Homo sapiens: one gene and its partners. The protein of the gene in region 3 interacts with the protein of the main gene of each other region in a pairwise test. Each region holds a gene or a part of one and is shown on either strand. Other genes may lie near its edges.

Evidence for each region.
Region 1: the proteins of RHOXF2 (region 3) and CERCAM interact in binary tests that used the Homo sapiens proteins (3 or more experiments, as listed by UniProt).
Region 2: the proteins of RHOXF2 (region 3) and TOLLIP interact in binary tests that used the Homo sapiens proteins (3 or more experiments, as listed by UniProt).
Region 4: the proteins of RHOXF2 (region 3) and RBFOX2 interact in binary tests that used the Homo sapiens proteins (3 or more experiments, as listed by UniProt).

Annotation. Positions count from the first base shown.
Region 1 is NC_000009.12:128,416,482-128,423,869, reverse strand, and holds the start of CERCAM (inactive glycosyltransferase 25 family member 3 isoform a precursor), read right to left. Parts: upstream 3,014-7,388; 5' UTR 2,993-3,013; coding exon 2,796-2,992; intron 2,667-2,795; exon of another isoform or gene 2,359-2,666; intron 2,348-2,358; exon of another isoform or gene 1,084-2,347; intron 1,003-1,083; coding exon 892-1,002; intron 725-891; coding exon 607-724; intron 1-606. UniProt on the Homo sapiens protein: Probable cell adhesion protein involved in leukocyte transmigration across the blood-brain barrier. Does not express any beta-galactosyltransferase activity in vitro.
Region 2 is NC_000011.10:1,292,606-1,299,636, forward strand, and holds part of TOLLIP (toll-interacting protein), read right to left. Parts: intron 5,960-7,031; exon of another isoform or gene 3,923-5,959; coding exon of another isoform or gene 3,851-3,922; intron 3,190-3,850; coding exon 3,040-3,189; intron 1-3,039. UniProt on the Homo sapiens protein: Component of the signaling pathway of IL-1 and Toll-like receptors. Inhibits cell activation by microbial products. Recruits IRAK1 to the IL-1 receptor complex. Inhibits IRAK1 phosphorylation and kinase activity.
Region 3 is NC_000023.11:120,161,611-120,166,159, forward strand, and holds the end of RHOXF2 (rhox homeobox family member 2), read left to right. Parts: intron 1-1,847; coding exon 1,848-2,177; 3' UTR 2,178-4,020; downstream 4,021-4,549. UniProt on the Homo sapiens protein: Transcription factor maybe involved in reproductive processes. Modulates expression of target genes encoding proteins involved in processes relevant to spermatogenesis.
Region 4 is NC_000022.11:36,018,809-36,025,839, forward strand, and holds part of RBFOX2 (RNA binding protein fox-1 homolog 2), read right to left. Parts: intron 1-7,031. UniProt on the Homo sapiens protein: RNA-binding protein that regulates alternative splicing events by binding to 5'-UGCAUGU-3' elements. Prevents binding of U2AF2 to the 3'-splice site.

The DNA of each region.
Region 1 (7,388 bases), on a different chromosome or scaffold from region 3:
TACTCTGAGCTCTAGTTCAGAGATCCAGGCTCAATTTATACCCTGGGCTCTAGCCCAGAAATCGAGGCTCAGTAAAGTGTATACAACGGGATCTATCTGAGGGGTCCAGGCTTAGTACCTAGTCTGAGCTTTTAACATAGGGATCCAATCTGAACATCTGGTCTGGGCTCTGGCCCAGATAGCCTGCCGAAGGATCCAGCCTTCGGGTGGGTCAGTCACATTCAGATTTCTTTTTCTTTTTTTTTTTTTTTTGAGACTGAGTTTCACTCTTGTCACCCAGGCTGGAATGCAGTGGCATGATTTCAGCTCAGTGCAACCTCTACCTCCCAGGTTCATGCCATTCTCATGCCTCAGCCTCCCAAGCAGCTGGAATTACAGGCGCCTGCGACCACGCCCAGCTAATTATTGTATTTTTAGTAGAGATGGGGTATCACCATGTTGGCCAGGCTGGTCTCGAACTTCTGACCTCAGGTGATCCACCTGCCTTGGCCTCCCAAAGTGCTAGGATTATAGGCGTGAGCCACTGCACCCAGCCTATACCCAGATTTCTATCAGGGACGGATACTACCGCCTTTCAGAAGCCCGATTCTAGCCAGACTTCCTCACCAGGATATAGTCGGCCCCCCAGTTCCTGGCAAAGGTGAGGGCTTCCTGCTTCAGCTCCATCAGAAACTGGTGCCTTTCTTTGGTCCAGTGCTTGGGACCCTCTTCATCTGGGTAGAACCTGAGGGGATAGAGGTGAGATGTTCCCATGGGGTACATGCCCCTCCCTCTCTGCAGGGCAGTGGACAGAGCCCTGGCTTGGAGGCTGTGGCTCTGGGCTGTCCCTTTTCCTCTCTGGGCTGCAGCTGTTCTCCATCTTCCCCAGCACCCTTCCCCTCAGATCACCACCTGGGCTCGCCCTCAGGCCTCCAGACCACAGCAGCATAGTCATCGCCCACAGCCGCCAGCCACTCCTGCAGCATCTCTGTGGTGTTGTCCACATTGTGGTCCGTGGCACACCTGGGGACGGGAAGAAAAAAGGCTGAGGGGGCACAGCCACAGGATTGAACCCCAAGGCAGCCTTGACCCCAAAGCACTAACACCTTTGAGGTCGAGCTCTCCTTGGAACAGTGAAGGGTAGGTGTGCTACAGCAGAGAGGCTGGAGGCAGCACAGCCAGGTCCCCACCACAGTTCTGTGACCTGCTGTGTGACCTCAGGCAAGTCCCATCTTTCTCTGGGCTTCACGTCCTCCCTCTATAACTTAAGCTGTCCTGCTTATGTCATGGACAAAGATAAGAGAAGAATAATGCATTTTTTTTGAGATGGAATCTTGCTCTGTCGCCCAGGCTGTAGTGCAGTGGTATGATCTCGACTCACTGCAACCTCCGCCTCCCGGGTTCAAGTGATTCTCCTGCCTCAGCCTCCTGAGTACCTGGGATTACAGGTGTGCACCACCATGCCCGGCTAATTTTTGTTTGTTTAGTAGAGATGGGGTTTCACCATGTTAGCCAGGCTGGTCTTGAACTCCTCACCTCAGGTGATCTGCCCACTTCGGCCTCCCAAAGTGCTGAAATTACAGGCGTGAGCCACCACACCTGGCCAACGAATGCATTTTGAAAGATGAAAAGTACCTCGACTTTAAGGATCACACCTGGTGCATTCCCTGGTTACCTTCGTTAGGTGGGCAGATACCTACCTATGTGACCTGTGGCTGTGTGACCACAGGCCAGCCCCTGTCCCTCTCTGAATGGGGACTAGACAGAAGAGCTGCTGCTTTCCTCCACCCCCAGGTTGTAATAAGGACCAAACCATGCTCTAAGCGTCCCTAAGAATGCAGATGGGTCCAAGCTCTGCTGTCATGGGGCACAGCCTCCCCTCTCCTGGGGAAGGGGCCCCCATAACAGAGGTGGGGGTTTAGCCAAGTGCCCAGGTTTTGGGTGATGCTGCCCCTTTAAGCCAATTCCCCAGAAATGAAGACTACGTGTCAAGTCTTACAGGGGTGGGAACTAACAAACTCCCAAACTGTGGTAATTGTGGGCGGCCTCCCCAGGCCAGGGCTCCACCCCCCCAGCCCAACTGTGGTGTGTTGAAGAGGGTGGCTTGTCATTTTTCTCAGTTTACCCCCAACCTCAGCCAGGGACTCCTCCCTGTTCTGGTGTCTACAGACCAGGGGTTGTGGCCTTCGATCCCAGTGCCCTGGGGGTACAGAGATGCCAGAGGGGAGAGGCTCCAGGAAGGGGGACTGCCCTTGGCTGACAGGATCCCGCCCCTCTACCAAGATCTACCAAGAGAGCTGGCCCCAGCACGGGGGCGGTGGGGGGGCCGGTCTGACTCCCCTGCACAGCCCGGAGCCCAGTGCTGATGGCACCCCCAACCTGTGCCCGGAAGCCTCCAGCGTGGTCGATCCCTGCCACGTTGGGCCCCAGTGGACTTCAGAGGTTCCTGTCTGCTCCTCTTCAAATCCAGCCAACCACAGGTCCCACTGGGGTTGAGCTGGGCCCTGAAGGCTGGGGTGAAAAGGGCTGGCTGGGCCCAACCTACACCCAGGGAAGGCCCCAAGAGGAAGGAGTAGGGGACCAGAAGGAGGGGTGGGTGTCCCGCGTCGGCCTGTGGCCTCAGAGGTCTGTCGTCTCCCAGCAGGGGGCTCGGGGTCCTCTCTGGCGGCTCGGGCTGGCAGGGCCGTCTGTGAGGGGAGGGGCCTGTCTAGGTGGTGTCTGGGCAGGGAGCGAGCAGACAGGGCCGCCGGGGGCGGGGGCCATCTGCGAAGCTGGGGGTTAGGTGCCCACTCGGTGCCAATGCCCGGGTCTCTCACCAGAGGGCCATCCTGGCCCGGGGGTAGTCCAGCCGCTCCAGAGCGCCCAGGTAGTGGGGCAGCGAGTGTTCGGCATTGCGGGCCAGGATGGCAAGGACCACGGCGGGCAGCGGCGACTCCGCAACGCCCGCAGCCTCCAGCCACGGCCCCAGCAGGAGCAGCAGCTGGAGCAGCGGCGCGGCGCGGGCAGCGCGCATGGCGGGCGCTTGGGCGGCTGCAGCGGCCCCCGGAGCTCTCGGGCCGGCCGAGGGGAGGGGGCGGGGCCTGGGGCCCGGGCGGGGCCGAGGCAGACCCGGAGAGGGCGGGGCAGTGCACCCTCAGAGTGGGATCCTGCTCCCCACCCCTGTGCGTGGATGCTCAAGTTTTCTCTCCTTGGCCCGGGGCACCGGAGGGCCAGGGCCCGGGGACCCGCGCCAGCCGCGACCCTGGAGCAGCCCCGCCCGGCTGGACCCCGGAGGGGCGACGGCGGAGGGGCCGGAGGACCGGACAGGGGAGGGGTGCTAGGACGAGTGCGTCGGGGCCGGCCGGGCGTCCGAGAACAGTAGGGGCTCATGGAACCCCTGGGCGTTGAACCCCCGGAATCCGGATTCCCCGGCCCACGCAGCCGACTCTTCGACCTGAGCCGCAGACCCAGAGGGGCGGCGCCCACTCGGCCACCACCTCCCGGGCTTCCCCGGCTCCCGCCCCATCCTCCGCCCCGGGCGCCCTCTGGCGGCCCTGGCGCTAGCTCCGCAGACCAGCCGGGCCACGCGTGGGCCGGAGACCCAGCGTGGGGGGCGCAGAGGGAGTCCCCCTGAGCTGGGCGCGTCCTCCCGCGGCGGTCCGCTCCTTAAGTCCCCTGTGCGTCACCTCCTTGCGTCGGTCGCCAGCACCCGCATTGCTTCGGCCCTTTAAGAGAGCACAGCCAGGCCGGGCGTGGTAGCTCACGCCTGTAATCCCGGCACTTTGGGAGACCGAGGCGGGAGGATCACCTGAGATCAGTTCAAGACCAGCCTGGCCAAGATGGTGAAATCCCATCTGTACTAAAAATACAAAAATTAGCCGGGCGTCGTGGCGGGTGCCTGTACTCCCAGCTACTTGGGAGGCTGAGGCAGGAGAATCGCTTGAACCCGGGAGGCGGAGGTTGCAGTGAGCCGAGATCGCGCCACTGCACTACAGCCTGGATGACAGACCGAGACTCCGTCTCAAAAAGAAAAAAAAAAAAAGAGCACAGCCCTCACAGCCCTCTCTTGGTCTGAGTGTAGAACTAGGGGACACCACGGAGCTGCTCACTGCGACCCGACCCGTCCGTCCTCCAAAGCAGGGGATGTTGGCTCCCCTGGAGCACCGCCGGGGTCCTTAGGACCCTGCTGGGAGGGAAAGAACTCTGCAGCCTCTCGGGAGAGGAGCAGAAAAGGGAGCGGCCTGGCGGCACCACAGATGGGATCGAACTGGGTGTCTGTCACCAACCTCAGACAGGTCCCTTTCCCTCAGGAGCCTCTCGGGTAAAATCGGGCTGATAACGCCACCCATCTGGGAGGGTTTGCAGGGATTCCTCGAGAGAATGAATGCACTGGCAGCTTTTCCCGCGTGGAGGCTTACACACAGGAAGAGCTCCGCCCTGGGGCTGGGAAGACAGGACTGGAGGAGAGGGAGGCTCCCCCTTCACCCTCCCACCGCTGGGAAGATCTCCTTTCCTAGGAACAGCACGGGGTCTCCCTTCAGCCTTTTCCCAGGGTCAGGGAGGGGAGCCAGGGCTGTGCACACTATCTCCACTGCAAGGGGAGGGCTGAAGGTCCATAGAGGAAGGAACTTACCTAGTGCAGGGGCAGCACGTGCGCACTGAACCCTGGAGTCCTGATCTCTAGCCTAGCTCAAAGCCTCCACCAGGATCGGGTGGCAGCTTCCATTTGAGGCCATTTCTAGGCCAGCGGCCCTGCAATGAGAAGCATTCTGGAGAGATGCCAGATTTCTTCTCCCTTGCACGGTAGTCCCCTGCGGGAAGCCACTCCCAGCCCCAGAAGAGGGATTCCCTTTCTAAAGCAAAGCAGTGTTCCCTACTTCACCCACCCCAGAGTCATTCCACAGCCTCTGCCTGTCCTATTGGTCCAAGGGTGCTATGGTCAGAATGTCCGTGACCCTCAAAACTCACATGTTGAAAACCTAATGTTAATGTCAGGGTATTAAGAAGCGGGGCCGGCACGGCGCGGTGGCTCGCGCTTGTAATCCCAGCACTTTGGGAGGCGGAGGCGGGCGGATCACGAGGTCAGGAGATCAAGACCATCCTGGCTAACACGGCGAAACCCTGTCTCTACTAAAAAATAGAAAAAAATAGCCGGGCGTGGTGGCGGGCGCCTGTAGTCCCAGCTACTCAGGAGGCTGAGGCAGGAGAATGGCGTGAACCCAGGAGGCGGAGCTTGTAGCGAGCCGAGATCGCGCCACTGCACTCCAGCCTGGGCGACGGAGCGAGACTTCTGTCTCAAAAAAAAAAAAACAAAAAACAAAAAACAAAAAAAAAAACAGGCGGGGCCTTTGGGAGTTGATTGGGTGGGCTGCCCCACCTGAATGCGGCTAGTGCCCTTATAAAAGAGGCCTGGGGGCCGGATGCGGTGGCTCACGCCTGTAATCCCAACACTTTGGGAGGCTGAGGGGGGTGGATCATGAGGTCAAGAGATCAAGACCATCCTGGCCAACATAGTGAAACCCCATCTTTACTAAAAATACAAAAATCAGCTGGGTGTGGTGTCGCGTGCCTGTAGTCCCAGCTACTCAGGAGGCTGAGGCAAGAGAATCGCTTGAACCCAGGAGGCAGAGGTTGCAGTGAGCCAAGATCATGCCACTGTACTCTAGCCTGGCAACAGAGCGAGACTCCGTCTCAAAAAGAAAAAAGAGGCCTGGGGAGCTTGTCAACCCCTTCTGCCACATGAAGACACAGCTAGAAGGCCCCAGGTATGAGGAACGGGCCCTTACCAGACACCAAATCTGCTGACGCCTTGACCTTGGACCTCCCAACCCCCCAGAACTATTAGCAATAAATTTCTTTTTTTTTTTTGGCCAGGGGTTGGGGGGTGGTTCAAGCAATTCTCCTGCTTCAGTCTCCTGAGTAGCTGGGATTACAGCCACACACCACTATGCTTGGCTAATTTTTTGTATTTTTAGTAGAGATGGGTTTTCACTACGTTGGTCAGGCTGGTCTCGAATTCCTGACCTCAGGTGATCCAGCTGCCTCAGCCTCCCAAAATGCTGGGATTACAGGTGTGAGCCACTGCACCCGGCTGATAAATTTCTGTTGTTTATACATTATGCAGTCTAAGATATGTTGTTATAGCAGCCCAAACGGACTAAGACAGGGGGCTTCCTGATTCTTCCCTGGCCTCAAGTCCTCCTCTTCCCCCAAGTCCTCCCACCCTCCCCAGGAGTCCAGCCTGTTACTAACTTTCTTGCCTCAGAGTTTTCCCATCACACCTGCCTGGAAAACCCAATAGCCATCTTGTTTTGGGGCAGGTTGGGGCAACTGCAAACTCAGGGTCTCTACCCTCACTTGGGCTCTCACCCAGCCCAAGAATCCTGTTTCCCTGTGTCCCCTGCCCACTCCCCTCAGGGCATTTCAAATGCTTCTAGTCATTGAGGCACGGTGGCTCATGCCTGTAATCCCAGGACTTCGGGAGGCTGAGGTGGGCAGATCACTTGAGGCCAGGAGTTCGAGACCAGCCTAGGAAACACAGTGAAACCCTGTCTCTATTAAAAATACAAAAAAAGGCCGGGGCAGTGGCTCACACCTGTAATCCCAGCACTTTGGGAGGCTGAGGCAAGTGGATCACCTGAGGTCGGCAGCTCAAGACCAGCCTGACCAACATGAAGAAACCCCGTCTGTACTAAAAACACAAAATTAGCTGGGCATGGTGGCGTGTGTCTGTAATCCCAGCTACTCAGGAGGCTGAGGCAGGAGAATCACTTGAACCCAGGGGGGCAGAGGTTGCAGTGAGCCGAGATCGCGCCATTGCATTCCAGCCTGGGCAACAAAGGCGAAACTCCGTCTCAAAAAAAAAAAAATAGTAATAATACAAAAAAAAATTAGCCAGGTGTGGTGGCACATGCCTGTAGCCCCAGCCACTTGGGATTCTGAGGCAGAAGAATCACTTGAACCTAGGAGGTGGGAGTTGCAGTGACCTGAGATCACGCCACTGCACTACAGCCTGGGTGACAGAGTGAGATTCTGTCTCAACAAAACAAAACAAAACAAAACAAAACAAAGCCTCCAGTCTTCTCAAGCCCCCATTCCACCGCCCCTCTCCCCCAGCAAAGATCTCTCTACTACTTTTTGGAGAAAATAGAAGCCATTACCTGGGAACTCTCATTTCTAGCCTCCAAACCTTCCACCTCTGCCCTCAGCCAGCCTCAGGAGGCACACCCCTCCTCAACAGAACGGCCCCTGTGAAACCGCCTTTGCAAATTTGTAACTCAGGAAATTATGACAGCGGAACAAATCAGACCTAACTGATTCTGTCTTGCTTCTAACCCTTAAGCTGTCCTTGTTCACTCCTGGGCGTAGGCTGAACTAACTTTGGGAAGGAATTCAGTTCATGGTTTGACTCTGAAACAAAATTTATAACA
Region 2 (7,031 bases), on a different chromosome or scaffold from region 3:
CCCATTCACTATGACTGCACACAACCACATGCTGTTCTGGTGCAGGAGACACTGTGGACACCGTGGGGACACACGGGCACCGCTGCCTCCCCCACAACGGGCAAGAGACGCACGTCAGACAGCAGACACCGTGGGGACACACGGGCACCGCTGCTTTCCCCACAATGGGCAAGAGATGCGCGGCAGACACACAGCGCAGCAGACGGCGTTACCACTGCAGGGAGTGACCAGCTAGGAGGACCGGGTATGCGGGCTGCAGGATCTGGAGGAAGAGCTGCAGGAAGCGGGAGGAGAACGGCCAGGGAAGAGGAAGGTCAGGAGTGACTAGGGTGAGGAAAACATGGGCCCAGCTGGAGCAGGCTCGGCAGGACAGTGCCCACGAGAAAGGCCCACGCGGGAACGGACCTACTCTGGCCACGCTGCAGGGGCTGAGCGGGGGCAGTGGGTGGGTGCGGGGGGCTCCAGGCCTGGACGGGCTGAAGGTGGCGCCTGTGCTGAGGGTCAGGCCTGAAGGGCAAGAGGTGGACATGAACCTGGAGCACCAGCAGCACGAGGGCTTTGGGCCTCAGCTTCCAGAGTGTGGGGCAGCCACCTGCGGACACGGGGGAGAAGCCGGGAGGGTGGCCCGAGAGCTCCACCTTGGGCACACGGAGTCCGGAGTGCCCACGGAACACCTGGGGAGGCCATGTGGCCATGGTCCGTACCTAGGGATCTGGGGTGGAGCTGAGTGGTCGGCTCAGGCTGGGGCCAGCACATGGGTGTTTAGACCCACAGGGATGCAGAAGTCACCGGGATGTGTGGGCAGAGAGGGGAGGAGGGCTGAGGACCAGACCCCTTGGCATCCCACTGGGGCCCCAGGAGACAACAAGGGGAAGCAGCGAGGGGACGCAAGCAGGGAACCACCTGTGTGGCCGCCCAGAAGCCAAGAGAAGCAGGAAACAGGGGCTGAGCTACCTGGCCCAGTGAGGAGGCAGGAATGTTTCCCACCACTGGAGCTGCGCCACAGAAGGCTGGGTGAGCTCACGTGGAGGAAACAGGCTGCCTGTGGTGGGCTCCAGGGTGCGGGAGAGGACCAAGGGGGGCCAGAGGCGTGGGCAACGCCAGGGCCACCTCCAAGGCCCAGCCAGCTCTGGAGCTTGAACTGTGTGAGGTGGAGTGCCCTGCGGTCACCAGGCCCTGCCAGGAGGTGGCGGCTGAGGACGGGTGATGGCACTGGCTGGCCTGGTGGCAGCTGGCACAGGAATGCATGGGCTTACGGGAGTTCACTGGGTGGGCAGAGGGATCGGCCACACCAGCACAGTAACAGCTGCACAAGCAAGGGTCTGAGACACGCCGCGAGGAAGGGGTGACGGTGTAGCTGTGCTCACCACACCATGAAGCCCCTGAAAGCAAGTCTTATTTGTGAGGTCCACGGCGATTCTTCTGCCTGCTGTATTTGTGCATTTCTATGAAAGCCGCGTGGCTCACAGTGTGTCTCCTTTCCCTGCATTTCTACGAAAGCCCGCGTGGCTCACAGTGTGTCTCCTTTCCCTGCATTTCTACAAAAGCCCGCATGGCTCAGTGTGTCTCCTTTCCCTGCATTTCTATGAAAGCCGTGTGGCTCACAGTGTGTCTCCTTTCCCTGCATTTCTACGAAAGCCCGCGTGGCTCACAGTGTGTCTCCTTTCCCTGCATTTCTACGAAAGCCCGCGTGGCTCACAGTGTGTCTCCTTTCCCTGCATTTCTACGAAAGCCCGCGTGGCTCACGGTGTGTCTCCTTTCCCTGCATTTCTACGAAAGCCCGCATGGCTCAGTGTGTCTCCTTTCCCTGCATTTCTACGAAAGCCGCGTGGCTCACAGTGTGTCTCCTTTCCCTGCATTTCTACGAAAGCCCGCGTGGCTCACAGTGTGTCTCCTTTCCCTGCATTTCTACGAAAGCCCGCGTGGCTCACGGTGTGTCTCCTTTCCCTGCATTTCTACGAAAGCCCGCGTGGCTCACGGTGTGTCTCCTTTCCCTGCATTTCTACGAAAGCCCGCGTGGCTCACGGTGTGTCTCCTTTCCCTGCATTTCTACGAAAGCCCGCGTGGCTCACGGTGTGTCTCCTTTCCCTGCATTTCTACGAAAGCCCGCGTGGCTCACGGTGTGTCTCCTTTCCCTGCATTTCTACGAAAGCCCGCGTGGCTCACGGTGTGTCTCCTTTTCCTGCATTTCTACGAAAGCCCGCGTGGCTCACGGTGTGTCTCCTTTTCCTGCATTTCTACGAAAGCCCGCGTGGCTCACGGTGTGTCTCCTTTCCCTGCATTTCTACGAAAGCCCGGGTGGCTCACGGTGTGTCTCCTTTCCCTGCATTTCTACGAAAGCCCGCGTGGCTCACGGTGTGTCTCCTTTCCCTGCATTTCTACGAAAGCCCGCGTGGCTCACGGTGTGTCTCCTTTCCCTGCATTTCTACGAAAGCCTGCGTGGCTCACAGTGTGTCTCCTTTCCCTGCATTTCTACGAAAGCCTGCGTGGCTCACAGTGTGTTTCCTTTTCCTGCAGTCTTACAGACGGTTTTCGTGTGATCAAAATCGGCGTTCAATCTGCCGATTTTGGCTTTCACTTGAAAGACCACTAAGCAACCACGGGCCGGCCCCGAGGCTGACCGAGGGCTGCTCTGTGGGGAGGGAGGGTGCAGGCACCGGCACTGAGGCCAACAGGAAGCCACTCACGCAGCACACACCAGGTGGCGGGGGTGCCGGCCGCGCCTCCTCCAGCTGCCGGCGGGGGTCCGGGAGGTGTCCTTGGGCGTACTCAAGCCTGGTGGAAGAGCCAGGCCCTACACAGAGCAGACGCCCACCTACACCCACTACTCATCACTTGAGTTATGTTTGGTAGAACCCGGGGTCAATGCCAATATCTTTCACACAGATCGTTTTCAACATCACACAGGTTTCAGGAAAAGCGGGAATCAGAAGTTCTGTTTGCCCGCTTAGGAAATGCAGTATAAACGCCGAAATCCGAAATCCCACCCCCACCGAGCGCACCAGCCCCAGGCAGGCAGGAGGGTGCCCCAAGGCCCACCTGTACCACCGTGATGTTCAGTCGGCCCACGGTGCCCACTGCGCCTCCGTACTGCAGCTGCTGGGCCGCCTGGGCGTCCAGCTGGACCTGCCGCTGCTGCTGTGTGGGCGTGATGCGGAGGAAGTCCTGCGGGAGCTCACCGATGTACACCTGCGGGGCCGGGGACCAGAGAGGCCAGTGAGTCAGGGTGGGGGCACAAAGCAGCCCGACAGCAGCTGCCCCCGGCATTCCCGCGGCCCCGCCCCCACCCATGTCCTTATCAAGTCCTGGACTGTGCTCAGCCTCAGTTTCCTCATCTCTAAACGGAGGGGTCAAGGGTGTCCAGCCTGGGGCCTGGCCCCCAGCGGTACAGGTGCAGCCCTCACTCAGGAGATCCCCAAATGCAGGTTTCTGCCGCTAAAAATGGGTTCCTGTCCTCAAAGCCTGCTCAGGTGGGTTTTCAGGTCATTTTAAAGGGTCTCCCTTGCACCATGTGTGCCCACGGCTTCTTTCTCCTTGTCCACAGCTAAAGGCAGGGCCACTGAACTGCAGGTCACTTGGTCAAACGAATGAGACAAAAGCTGAGCCTCAGGTCTAAAGTGATTTGGAAAACCCTCTGCTGATATACTTCAAATGTTTCCACATGAAACAGCTGAAATTCAAAAGTATCCCAGAAGAACGCAGGAAGTAAATCGATTCCAAACAACCACGAAAGACCTCCCCACTCTGCATCCTATGTCTCCTCGACCCTCTGTCCACCACTGCCACTTCTGAGGGGAAGAGAGAGGATGGGCCCAGGCAGGACAATGCCATCCCGAAACCACCCGCACACCTGCAGCGGCCGAAGGGGCCTGGGGTAAACCATGCTCCACAGGTGAAAGGTCGCTGATGAGGCCCTGAGCATGGGTCTGGCTGCTGGTGGAGTGGGGTGGAGGCCTGGTTGCTGGAGGAGTGGGGTGGAGGCCTGGTTGCTGGTGGAGTGGGGTGGAGGCCTGGTTGCTGGTGGAGGCCTGGTTGCTGGAGGAGTGGGATGGAGGCCTGGTTGCTGGTGGAGTGGGGTGGAGGCCTGGTTGCTGGTGGAGTGGGGTGGAGGCCTGGTTGCTGGAGGAGTGGGGTGGAGGCCTGGTTGCTGGTGGAGTGGGGTGGAGGCCTGGTTGCTGGTGGAGTGGGGTGGAGGCCTGGTTGATGGAGGAGTGGGGTGGAGGCCTGGTTGCTGGTGGAGTGGGGTGGAGGCCTGGTTGCTGGTGGAGTGGGGTGGAGGCCTGGTTGCTGGTGGAGTGGGGTGGAGGCCTGGTTGCTGGTGGAGTGGGGTGGAGGCCTGGTTGCTGGTGGAGTGGGGTGGAGGCCTGGTTGCTGGTGGAGTGGGGTGGAGGCCTGGTTGCTGGTGGAGTGGGGTGGAGGCCTGGTTGCTGGTGGAGTGGGGTGGAGACCCAGCCGTCTGCAGGGGCCCCGGTCAGCGCCAGTGCCCTGGGCAGTTGTTTTCAGGAAATACCGAGTGGAACCTGGAACCCTCGGTGTGTCGGACGTGAGCTTAGGCAAAGTGCACGTGCTGAGGCCGCCAGAACGCCTCTGCCATGCACACCAGAAACCCGTACCTGCCTGTGCCATGGACTCCCAATGACACGGTGCCAGGCAGGGCTCCAGGAGGTTCTGAGTTAAGCCCTGCACCTGCTGTGCTCTGGGCGCCTGGCACTTCAAAGGACCCCGAGAGGGTCTAGCTCCTCACCTGTGTCCCCATCTAAGGCCTGGAGCGCACAAGCCAGTCAGCGCTCCACAACCAATGTGAGTAAACAGAAGGGACCCGGACGATCCAGGCACCGCTTCGAGCAGTTACGGACTCAGGACCCCCAAGTTCGGGAAGCTCTCTGCAGGCTGCACCCCAACCTGAGCAGCCAGCATGGCGTGTGCTCAACCGCTCTTCTCTAAAAAGCAAAACACACTTTGTGCGTTTCCCCACACTTTACCCCGTTTTTGACTGGGACACGTCACGAGTGACCTTTGCCCTGTGAGAGAAGCCGTACTGCGAGAACAAGCAGAGCACCCCGGCTTCACCTCCGGAGGGTGTGGCATAGGCCAGGGCCCGGAGGGACCCCCTGCCCTTACGGACAATCGAGGAGGGTGCAGAGGTGCCTGAGCGGAGTGGGCCCATGCCAGGAGTCCCAGGCCAGCCTCCCCCAGGCAGCCTCTCTCGAGGCGCTGTACAGCTCAACAGCAAGCTCTGGCTCAGGAGGGCGCTGAGAGGCCCCATGGCACGAGATGCTAAGCACCTGTTCCTGTTGGCACACAGGAAACACTGGGGTACAGAAGGCCAGGGCCCTTCGCCTGCCTCCCAGAAGGATTCACAGCCCAGAGCTCTCTCCCCGGGGGACACCTGGCCACACAGGACGTGCTTCCCTGCCAACCCCACAGGGCCCTGGCACAGCCCATGCCAGCAGGCTCTATGACTAGCTCTGTCTGCTCACCAGGAACGGGTTATCTTGCAGAAACAGACTCGTGCTAACCAAGTTCTCAGGACTAACATACACAGGCCAAATTCCTGTTTATTTGTGACAACTGCTTCCTGTGTGCCACATGCACAGCTCTGAGGACATGGCAGGAAAAGCACCGTATCTCCTGGGCACACATGGCAGACAGACAGGCGGCTCGTGCCCTCCTGGGCACACGTAGGGGACAGACAGGTGGCTCATGCCCTCCTGGCCACACGTGGGGGACAGACAGGCGACTCATGTCCCGGAGACAGCAGCATGGAGAAGCCAGTCGGGGGAGGGTGTGGGTGGTCACAGGGACGTGTGGGCGTGGGGTCCAGAGGCCTCTGAGGGAGCACTGTGGGTCCCTCGCTGCTCTGGATCCTGGTTGTCCCGGTATTTGAAGGCGTCCAGCGCTCCATCTCCTTGCTCTGCACTCTTTAGGTGTCCGTTAAAGACAGTGGGACTGCTCATTACTGGGAGAAAATAAAATTATATCCAAAGGCCTAATGATCAAGTGTCATTTTTCAACAAGGATTTAACCATAAAATGGCAAATAGGAAAAGAGGGTTTTTAAACATAAACCGTGTGGATAGAACACGAAAAGGGGAGAAGCAGCTCCCTGCGGATGGAGCTCATCAGCCCCACGCAGCCCGGGGACCGCAGCCAGCGCCATGTGGCGGGGCAGGTGCGCGTCCAGCTCCCCGAGATGACACACGCCTCACATCTGGGTTTTCTTCCCAAAAACCCACACCCCAATTAAGAGACATCTGACAAAATCCCTGACCAGTCAGTCGTCCTCAAACCGTCAAGGTCCCAAAAACACAAGGAAAGCCTGAGAGACGGTCCCAGATTGGAGATGGCAGACATGATGGCTAAACGCAAGGCAGGGTGCTGGGACAGCAGGGGACAGTCATCGAAAAACCAGGACAGCCAAATAAAACCTGGAGCCAACAGTCATGCCCCCAGCTCAGCGCCACAGCTGTGAGAGCTGTTCCCGGGGAGGGGAGCGTCGGCCAGGGGACATGGGTGAGACACACAGGACCTCTTCGTGCCAGCTTTTCAATTCGTCATAAGACTGAACACTACAAAATTCAAGGTTTTTCAGAAAAATATTCCATTTAACCTGAAGACAGGAAGAGCAAGAGAGGAGACGGAGACCAGGCTTCAGTCCTCCCCGTACAAATACTGGTTACGCAACCTGCTGCCCCGCCTACCAGGGAGAGGCGGCTTGCCTGCTGCTGCAATGCCCTCGTTTCTCAACTTAGAGCAAAGCCCTTCAAACGAGGAGGGAGTGCTACCAGTTCATGCTTCACGAGTCACAGGGGAGAGAGTCCAGGTGCTGAAGTAAACCCTATCGTTTCAGTGACGACACTCGGTCCTTCAGTAAATGTCTATTTTGAATTTATTTTTTAAATTCAGTGCTAATCCTAAAATTTATTTTTGCCATATGATGATGGAGGAACTATTTCAATGGTCACATAAAAATATATGCTTTACCCTGGTTCAAAGGCTTGGAAATATGAAAACAAAAATGATTACTCCCGA
Region 3 (4,549 bases):
AAATCGGGATGACCTTAATAGCTTTTCTGCAGAGCTCATGTGTGTGAGTGCAGTGAGGGAACTATGCTGCGGTTCTGTCAATGGTGGCATGCAGAAAAGCTGCCTGACAAAACGGGGCACTGAGTGTTGGCATCCTGTTGCCCTCCATTTTCTCAGGCAGGCAATGCCAATTTGGGGGAGATGAAATATTGACGTTTTGGTGAATTGCCTTTCCCCTCCCTGGGTTTACATAGCATTCACTCAATGCAGTTCTGAAGGCAAAAGGACCACTCTCACTCAGCAAATAAGGAAAAAGGCATGATGTTCTCATCTATTGCCAAACATTTCAGCATGAATATCTCCAAAAATTTTTAATAGATGTTTCCCCCCTCTGTTTTGTAAAGATAGTAAGGGCTGGTTTATGAAACCGATACGGAGACTAGGGACCTAATGTTGTCCCATAGCACATTTGGCCCACTTTTGGCATTGCTTATGTTTATGAACCTTTGACCACAGGTACATTGGAATTGTCTCTAAACAAGCACTATTACGGTAGGCTTAAAATTTAGACTATGTATTCATGAGGGAGAAGGACTCCAAATAGTAAGATGGGAGAAGGAAATGGGGCATCAAACAGGGAGAAGAGTCCCTTTGTCCCATAAAATTTGCAGTTTGGGAACTTCCAGAAGGATCAAAATACAATGGAAATGTCATTAACTAGAAGCTTGGGGGATAGTGTTGTTTAATTGACAGGTTTTATTTTTTGGTCTTTTAACAATTGGCAGGTGTTTGGGGAGTAGTGTTTTTTGATACCTCCTCCACATTACTACTGAACGTGTTCAGAGTTGCCTATTTGGACACTCCCGCTTTGGGAATGCTGATGAGATTGGGATCTTCTGCTCGAGTAGTGAGGCTAGATGGCTGAAGGCGTCCCATGGAACTGGGCAACCAAGTCTCTGTCCCATATCCCAGGACTATAGGGAGAACAAAGTGAGCTGACCTTGTCCTTAGCCCAGGAAGATTTGGAGGGAGGGATGAGTTGGAGCGTGCAGAATTAGCAATGCTTCCTTTCTCTCAAACTCTCAACTGGGCAAAGCTTTTTGAGAATTTTTGTGAATTTGGACAACATTTGTGTCCTCCTTCCACAAAGCTTCAAGCTGAAGTGTGAAGAGTGTCCAGGGCTTCAGATACCCTCATTTCCCAGCAAGACAATCCACAAACTCCCTGGGCCCCCTATAACGAGACTTGCCTTGCAATATACCATCTTTTTAATTCTCAAGGAGTTTCAGAAGATGAATGACCCCTTAGAATTTCTTGAAGGAAAGAAAACTTGTTTTAAAATACAATGTACTCTTACCGATTTTTTACTTTACACTGAAGATGGGCTTTTCAAAACGGGGGCCTCATCTTCTTGGTATGACTTTAAAAGGCACCCCCGCCTTTTTTTCCAAGCTCAGCTTCCCCCACGACCAGGGTGACAGTGGCCTAGTAAGTAGGAGTTGGTGGGCAGCTGGGTAGCTGATGGTCAAGTATCTGCAAGCAGACATGCCACACATAGCAATACCAGCAGGGATCGAGTCCCACTCATCAGCTACACCTGCACCCAAGAGTGGAAAAAGTAATATTACAGATAAAAGGAGAGAGACAAAGAAATAAGCCAAGCCAGAGCGTACGTAGCACATACTTGGAGCTCACTAGGGGAAAGGTGTGGTGGTCACCTTTCTAAGATATTTTAGTAGTAAGGAAGTAGCTTGTCTTGATACACCCGAAAAGGTTAAGGACATAGAGAGTTGCTTGTTGTGTTTTTTTCCATGATGAAATTAAATGCTCAGTATACTAAACCTGTTTCTTTTTTCCTCTGATTGAAGATTTGGTTTGAGAATAGAAGAGCCAAATGGAGGAGACATCAGAGGGCATTAATGGCAAGAAACATGCTGCCCTTCATGGCAGTGGGCCAGCCTGTCATGGTAACCGCAGCTGAGGCCATAACGGCACCCTTGTTCATCAGCGGGATGAGAGATGATTACTTCTGGGACCACAGCCATTCCAGCAGCCTGTGTTTCCCCATGCCACCCTTTCCTCCTCCGTCCTTGCCCCTTCCACTCATGCTTCTTCCACCTATGCCACCCGCTGGCCAGGCTGAATTTGGCCCATTCCCTTTTGTTATCGTGCCTTCTTTCACATTCCCCAATGTCTAAGGGATAGCCTCTGTGCCACTTTTTGCCAGAGTGTCTTTGAGCCAGATTCATATTTTGCATAGCACCCCATCAAAAGTAGTTCATCAAATGTCTATTAAACGTTTTAAAGAAAAGTACATCATTGACCCATTTTTAGGGCACTTGTAAAAATGTTTCTATAAATATGTGAAGGGTATGTACATTTGTTTTGTGTGTCACATGGGGTCAGTAAGTTCTCAATAAAAATTGTTAAGAAATGCCATTCAAACCGAATGTCACGGACTCTCGTCTCATGCAGTAATCTTGAGTCACCATCTGGGGGCTGTGCATGTCACAGAATTTTCCCATGTGCCCATGGCAGGCTTACACCGACCCAGACATTCTCTTCCACCCCCACCCCCAACACCCCATACTCATCTCCTCTCTGCCCCCATTGATACCAGGTACATGTGCAGGATGGGGTGGTGTGAGTCCCTAATGAGAGAATAGTGTGTTTCAAGTTACTGCCAGGGTGGAAAACAGCAAAACCAAAATGGTATCGGGAAGGAAGCCATGCCCACTCTTAAAAATTCATTAAGTTTTTTCTTGCTATGGAAGACTTCTTTAAAGTAATTTTCTTGTAAAAGTGTAAGTGTAAATAATGCCATGAAATTATACACTTATTTAATGGCTAAAATGGCAAATTTTTATATGGTTTACCACAACAAAAGAAAAGAAAAAATATACCAAAAAGTTTTTAAAAAGTGATCATGAACATTGTGGTCATCCTGTGAAGTGATTGCAATGCCTGCAGATAAGGAGTGATGGTTACAACAGTATTTTCTCTGAAAATTATTTGATGGCCAGTTTCATAATGATTATGTTTTCAGCCTGAAGGAAAATTCCATTTTCTTGGGTGAGCATGAACTTTCTGTCAGGCTGTCTGCTGCTTTTCATTCCCCACTTCTCTCTTCACAATTGTGGGTGTCAAGCTTCAGCCACGCAATTGCATTTGGTGTGAGGGTTTTGCAAGGAGAAGGAGGTTTATTCATACCCCTGAAGCCACAAGCCTTGGTGGGAATAAGGAAAGTCCATGAATTCACTATGCATTAATGCATGCCTCTTGGCCAAGTGGATTCTTTTTTCTTCTCCGATTGAGATTTTCCTTTTTTTTTTTTTTTTTTTTTTTTGCTCTTGTTCTCATTGTATTGTGCTTTGTATAATTATTTACAGTAAGTCGCGCATGTCAGTGTACATTCCGTCTGGAAATTGTTTCCATTTGGTACATTTTGTGCCAGTCGGTCTATTCCTGCTCATTATTTTGTTTTTTCTACATTCAGACTGAAACATTTGGTAGCCTAGAGATACTCAGAAATAGGCAAAGAAAGGTAAAAGGGGAGGAGGGGAGATTGAAATCATACTTCCATTATCCCTCCCCGTGGTTATCAGATTCATAAAATTTTTACACCATCAAAAGACATTTTTAGCCATATATGTTTCCTTTATGTAGAAAATGAGATCTCCTATACTCAGTTGGCATTTGTTTTCATGTATCTGATAAGTACCTGTTAGAATTATAGGTCAAGATGTTGTCTAGCTCTGGTAACCTAGATCCTGAACTTCAAAGCAGAGTTCTTGGACCTTAAGAAATTCAAATTCGTAGAATTATAGTTAGGATGTCATTTACTGACCTTGAACAACACATTGTTTAGGTAGCATACAATGGGACTAGTTCAAGGGGCTGGGTGGAGAACAAGTTACAATTTTTTCTGATGGAGAACATTACTGGAGACAGTACCCTTTAAAACTTTCATTCCCTTTTTATTAGCAGCTAACGTCTTGTATGCCTTTACTATGTGACAAGCAATAAAATAATGTCCTTGGATGATTTTGTTTGATGCTCAAATGAATCCTAATAGTGAGGTTCTAGCATCTTCATTGAAAGAAGAGGAAACTTATCCATGGTGCAAAGCTAATCAGAGGAACAGGATCTGAAGCCAAATTTGTCTGCCTCCAGAGCCCATGCTTTGTCAAGTTTAATTCAGCGGTGGTGCACTGGGATGCCACAGTTAGGGCAATCTGGCTTCCAATCCCAGATGCACCACTTCCCAGCTGTTTCCCCCTGGGCATTTTACTTAAGCTCTGTAGTATCATTATTATTCTCTATAAGATGATAATATTATATCACAGAATTGATGAGAGGGATAAATAACATATGTAAGTGGCCTTCCACAATGCCCAGCCAGAGTAAGCACACAGAAATGTTTTCTACTATTATTCTATATTATCTCCTATCATCATATTATTATAACCTGTTGTTCCACCTTTCCTATGTGGTATAACAGAAAGAGATCTGATTAAAAATAAGGTGGTCTGGGTTCTTGCTGCAGCTCTACGCTGTCTTTGTTACCTTG
Region 4 (7,031 bases), on a different chromosome or scaffold from region 3:
TCATCATGTTGGCCAGGCTGGTCTCGAACTTCTGACCTCAAGTCATCTGCCCGCCTCAGCCTCCCAAAGTGCTGGGATTACAGGCATGAGCCACCGCACCTGGCCAGATTGGCTCTTTTAGATAGATCACTGTGTTAGCAGTCTGGAGAGCGGGTTTGAAGAGACTGAAAAGGGACCACAAGAGACAACACAAAGGCATCCCAGCTCAATTTCCATAGACAAAATGAGAACAAAAAGTGCCACTTTTGAACCAACATACGTAACAAAACTTATAAAATTTGAAACACGACATTTTTACTGTTCCTGCCTTCCATGTACCACTAAAACAGCCAGTGAATCTGTCACCCACCCTCCCAACAGAGATCCCACGGGTTCTAAGAAATCCACATCCCCCCTGCAGACACTGTGATACTGCAGCAGTCCTTTCACTCCTTAGCAAAGAATTGTCTCCCCTTCCTCTGACAAGAGAGACCACAATGACCCAGTTCATTCCACTCCTCCACCCTGGATAATGAGCAAATGAGGTTTCCCCTTTAACACACTGCTCATCTCTAGTAGTTCCCAACTCTGGCACTTAATCAATCAGAAGCACATTAACCACTCCATGCAGATTAAACAGTAAGCAGGAAGTTAGTGAGTGCTGTATAGCAGGATATAAGGAAAGCAAGAAATAAACATGTAGTGCTGGGTTCCTTGATAGGCACCTTAAAGAATCTCAGTTCTCATTACAGTGGTTTATAAGAGTATACATTAATTCTCCCAGTTCACAGATGTGTGAGCAGGAGCTCAGAGATGTTGAATAGCTCATTCATTTGGTAAATGGAGAAGCCAGGATTCAAATCCCAAAATGAGAAGCTCTAAATGGTGTTTATTTACTACACCATATTTCAAGTATATATGGATAACAAATATGATTACATATTAAGGTTAGTAATAAAAATATCTCCCCTTTAAAAACAGAGAAGGGACTCATGGATAGGAAGAATCAATATCATGAAAATGGCCATACTGCCCAAGGTAAACTATAGATTCAATGCCATCCCCATCAAGCTACCAATGACTTTCTTCACAGAATTGGAAAAAACTACTTTGAAGTTCATATAGAACCAAAAAAGAGCCCACATTGCCAAGACAATCCTAAGCCAAAAGAACAAAGCTGGGGGCATCACGCTACCTGACTTCAAATTATACTACAAGGCTATAGTAACCAAAACAGCATGGTACTGGTACCAAGACAGAGATATAGACCAATGGAACAGAACAGAGCCCTCAGAAATAATACCACACATCTACAACCACCTGATCTTTGACAAACCTGACAAAAAACAAGAAATGGGGAAAGGATTCCCTATCTAATAAACGGTGCTGGGAAAACTGGCTAGCCATATGCAGAAAGCTGAAACTGGATCCCTTCCTTACACCTTATACAAAAATTAATTCAAGACGGATTAAAGATTTAAATGTTAGACCTAAAAGCATAAAAACCCTAGAAGAAAACCTAGGCAATACCATTCAGGACATAGGCATGGGCAAGGACTTCATGACTAAAACACCAAAAGCAATGGCAACAAAAGCCAAAATTGACAAATGGGATCTAATTAAACTAAAGAGCTTCTGCACAGCAAAAGAAACCACCATCAGAGTGAACAGGCAACCTACAGAATGGGAGAAAATTTTTACAATCTACCTATCTGACAAAGGGCTAATATCCAGAATCTACAATGAACTCAAACAAATTTACAAGAAAAAATCAAACAATCCCACCAAAAAGTGGGCAAAGGATATGAACAGACACTTCTCAAAAGAAATTTACGCAGCCAACAGACACATGAAAAAATGCTCATCATCACTGGTCATCAGAGAAATGCAAATCAAAACCACAATGAGATACCATCTCACAACAGTTAGAATGGCGATCATTAAAAAGTCAGGAAACAACAGGTGCTGGAGAGGATGTGGAGAAATAGGAACACTTTTACACTGTTGGTGGGACTGTAAACTAGTTCAACCATTGTGGAAGACAGTGTGGCGATTCCTCAAGGATCTAGAATTAGAAATACCATTTGACGCAGCCATCCCATTACTGGGTATATATCCAAAGGATTATAAATCATGCTGCTATAAAGACACATGCACACGTATGTTTACTGCAGCACTATTCACAATAGCAAAGACTTGGAACCAACCCAAATGCCCATCAATGATAAATTGGATTAAGAAAATGTGGCACATATACACCATGGAATACCATGCAGCCCTAAAAAAGGATGAGTTCACGTCCTTTGTAGGAACATGGATGAAGCTGGAAACCATCATTCTGAGCAAACTATCACAAGGACAGAAAACCAAACACTGCATGTTCTCACTCATAGGTGAGAATTAAACAATGAGAACACTTGGACACAGGGTGGGGAACATCACACAATGGGGCCTGTCCTGGGGTGGGGGGAGGGGGGAGGGATAACATTAGGAAATACACCTGATGTAAATGACGAGTTAATGGGTGCAGCCACACCAACATGGCACATGTATACATACATAACAAACCCGCACGTTGTGCACACGTACCCTAGAACTTGAAGTATAATAAAAATAAAAAATAAAAATAAAATAAAAACAGAGAAGGGACATATATCCTACGGTCTCAGATTAAGGGATCACTCACAAAAGTGACAAACGATCACAACTGGAATCTCCAAATGCTACTAAAAAAAAAAAGGTCACTTCTGAGCATTAGTGACCAAAAAATGTTCAGACTCAAATAATCAAAGCAATCTGGCTATCCTCCAGAGAAATATCTCAAATCCTCCACACACTTTCCCCTCAGAGTCCCTAAGACAATGTTTGAAAAAACTCATGGCTGACTGCTCATTCTCTTGAGTAAATGACTTCCCAAACTACTTTGCCCACCCAAATTACAGAAATGCGTCCAGGATTCACATGGCAGTTCTGATCCGATTTGTCCCAATCCTGGCTCAAGCAGCTTTGCTACTTTCCTAACTAGATCAGCATCAGCCAATGGGTTTATTCAAGCTGATCTGTGATGGATTAGATAATGAAACCTTAGCCATGTAAGCTGCCTGCTTGTATTGGGGTTGTAGAGGAGAATAAGAAGAAACTCAATACTCCTAGGGGCCACCTAAAACACCAAATGTACTCACCATCCCTCACTCCATCTGTCTGCTCATGCTCCAATTACTGCCATTTCCTTCCAATCATGTCTGTGGTTCTTCCCTCCTGCCTTTGAAGGAAGTGCACATTTGCCCCAGAATAAAGATGTTTACTATGCTTTACAAATGTATATCAACAAAAATTCAAAGAAATCTGCTTACTAAAATGACTGTCTTTTTCTACAAATTATTAAAGCCTGACATCAAACTGAAGGCCTGAGAGATGTTAAACTAGAGATTCACTAGCAACATTCTTGTTTATACAAAGTAGCATAACTCAATTTCTTTCTCAGCAGTCCTGTAAACTTGAGGCCTGTCTGCACCAGTCTGCTTTACAGCAAAATGAAAGTTAAATTTCTAGTTAGCTTCTGTTGTGTTCACATGTCAGCGTGATAGTGAAAAAAAAATGACAGAGTAGCTAGAAAATGGGAGGGAGTTGGGAGACAAACTCAACTCAAGCTAATCTCTTGAGTCACCCTGAAGAATAATTCTACTTTGAAATCAGATCTGACTTTCTCCTTCTCAAATACATTTCCAGTTTTACATCTGCAGACTTCCTTGTAAGACATGGGGAAAAAAGCAACAAGTTTTACATGACTGTTCCTCAGTTTCTCCATCTACAATATTTACCACTCTGGTAGTGTTACAGGCTTAATGTCTGTGTCCCTCTAAATTTCGTATGTTGAAGCCCTAACCCCAGTGTAATGGTATTTGGAGGTAGGACCTCTAGAATTAGCTTCAGATTGGGTCATGAGGGTGGGAACTACATGATAAATGAGTGCCCTTATAAGAAGAGGAAGAGACCACTGACTCTCTCTCCCCCAGGGCACAGACAAAGGAAAGGCCATGTGAACACACAGCAAGAAGACAGCTATCCACAAGCCAGAAGGTGGGCCCTCACCAGACATGAAATCTGCTGGCACCTTCATCTTGGACTTCCCAGCCTCCAAAACTGTGAGAAATAAATGTCTGTTGTTTAAGCCACCCAGTCTATGGTATTTTGCTGTGGCAGCCCAAGGACACTGGGACAGGGAGAGATGAAAAATTCAGTAATTTCAGTGAAATATTGTTCATGAAATTACTTGCAAGAAAAAAAAAACACAATATTTTTATAACTCTTCTTGAATGGTAGCACCATGCTTAGTTTCAGCACCAAATACCAAATGAGGGCACAAAGAGACATCCACCTATGAGGAAATAAGCCCATAAATAAGCAAATGGGAAGATAAACTACTTCAATAAACACAGCATCTACAAAGCAACTTCAGGCTATCTGGAACCCCTTCCCTGAAACCTGAAAGAAAGTCATCTTACTACTAGAATCAGCTGCTAATAGGAATAACTGCTGAACCCACTTGGCTAAACTGGATTTATGACTCTATGGTGAGAAGCGGTTACTTGGCCATATAATAATTATACCATATCAACATTTCACTGACACAAAGAATTCTGCTGAAAGCTATAAGTAATAAGGTACATCTTACCTTATACAGCAGCTAAACTCTTAGAAAACTGCACAAAAATAAAATTTTTATGAATCAAATTGTTCACTAGAAAAGCTGACCAAAAGAATTCATTCCCCACTACATTGTATAGAGCGTAAATTTCATACATATTAAACTTAAAGTGAAATGAACCTCTAATAGCCCTATATTTAACTCATTTAACTTCCCACAAACTTTGAGTACAGTATTTCCAAGTACTCTCTTTAACTACATTTCTCAAACTGTACATCAGCTTTCCAGTTGAGTTTGTCACTTCCCTCCTACTCTCTGGTTCACGTTTCTCTATTTCTGTACTCTTTCCAGGGCTGCACTGACTCCTCTTCCACCTACATCAAGTTTCTGTATACTGCCTTTGAAAGCACCGACCCTTCCTCTCTTTCTCCTAGGGTTCCTTCTGAGCCTAAGGATTATAACAAAAGCATCACAGACTCTCTGGCGTTTCCTAAACTCCATTTTGGTAAGTGATGATTTACTCCAAAAGCTTAGTGGTACAACTTAACAAGATTCAACTTTGGAATCTAACGCTTAGCACTACAGCTCCATTTAGTAAGCAGCCTTGGGAATGACCCCAGTAAATGAACTTATTCTATAAAAAGCGGTTAATCCTTTGACATTCAAAGTGCCTGGAAAATTCTGTGATGATACCCTCACTCTGGAATTTCACAATTTTTCTTAATCCTTAACTATCTGTAAAAGGTAAATTTCAATTTCAATTTAACAGGCATTGAGCACTTACCAAGTACCCAAAACTGTTAGGTATTACGAAGGATAAATACAAAGGAAATATAGTTCCTATCTTTTAGAAGCTTACAATCTTAGCAGTGAAACAAGAATAATAAAACAATTAAGGGACAATAAAAGATGACACACAATTAAGCATCAATATACCAAGAGGCAAGAGTAGGATCGGAATGGTGTGAACTAAGCTGTCAGGGAAGGCTTCACAAAAGGAGTTAGAAAACGTGTTAAGAAAACAGGCCAGGTGCAGTGGCTCATGCCTGTAATCTCAGCACTTTGGGAGGCCAACGCAGGCGATCACCTGAGGTCAGGAGTTCGAGACCAGCCTGGCCAACATGGTGAAACCTCATCTCTACTATAAATACAAAAATTAGCGGGGTGTGGTGGCACATGCCTGTAATCCCAGCTACTCAGGAGGCTGAGGCATAAGAATTGCTTGAACCCAGGAGGCAGAGGTTGCAGTGAGCTGAGATCAAGCCACTGCACTCCAGCCTGGGCAACAGTGAGACTCCATCTCAAAAAAAAAGAAAAAAAAGACGTGTACTTTAAGACAAACCCACATACCCAAAACACTGGCTACGATAAGATTTTTTTTATTTTTTTGAGACAGATTTTCGCTCTTGTTGCCCAGCCTGGAGTGCAATGGCGCAACCTCAGCTAACTGCAACCTCCGCCTCCCGAGTTCAAGTGATTCTCCTGCCTCAGCCTCCCTAGTAGCTGGGATTACAGGCGCCTGCCACCACGCCTGGCTAATTTTTTGTATTTTTAGTAGAGACGGGTTTCACTATGTTGGCCAGGCTGGTCTCGAACTCCTGATCTCAGGCGATCCACCCGCCTCAGTCTCCCAAAGTGCTGGGATTACAGGCGTGAGCCACTGCGCCCGGCTAAGATTTTTAAAGTGTGTATTTACATAGGGCCTATAGATATTTCTAAACCACTGATACCATCTCCTAAGACTACCTGCCCTTGCTCTCTCTGCTCCAGCTATTAATACATTGGTCTCCTGTTTCCAAACAAACCAAGCAGTCTTTCTCAATGCCTGTGCACCCTCACCTCCTCTACCTGAACCCTCTTTCCGAAAGCATCTGAATGGCCCATTACCTCACTTCACTCATAGGCCATCTATCTTAAAGCCCTTCCGTAACCATCTTCATTCTCTCCCTTTCCATCTCTCCCTTTCCCTGCTTTTTCTTTTTAGCCCTTATCACCACACAATTATAGTTGTTGATTTATTAGATGTCTCTTTCCATTCAATATTAGTTCCATGACAGCAAGGGTTTTTTGTTGTTGTTGTTCACTATTATATCTCTTAGGGTTAAAACAGTGCCTGGGATGTAGCAGCTGCTTAATAAATGTTAGTTCAATGAATAAACATTAAGTATATTCATGTAATACTCTCACACTTCTTTAAAAATGCACGCTTCTTTAAAAAAAACTTTTCGCCCATTTGTCTCCCCACATAGATTGCATGCACCTTAAGGACAGTGAACTGGACTTATAACTTTTAGAAGGTAACTTAGAACTTGGCCGGGTGCGGTGCCTCACACCTGTAATCCCAGCACTTTGGGAGGCCGAGGTGGGTGGATTACAAGGGAAATCATCTTGTACACATACTTTA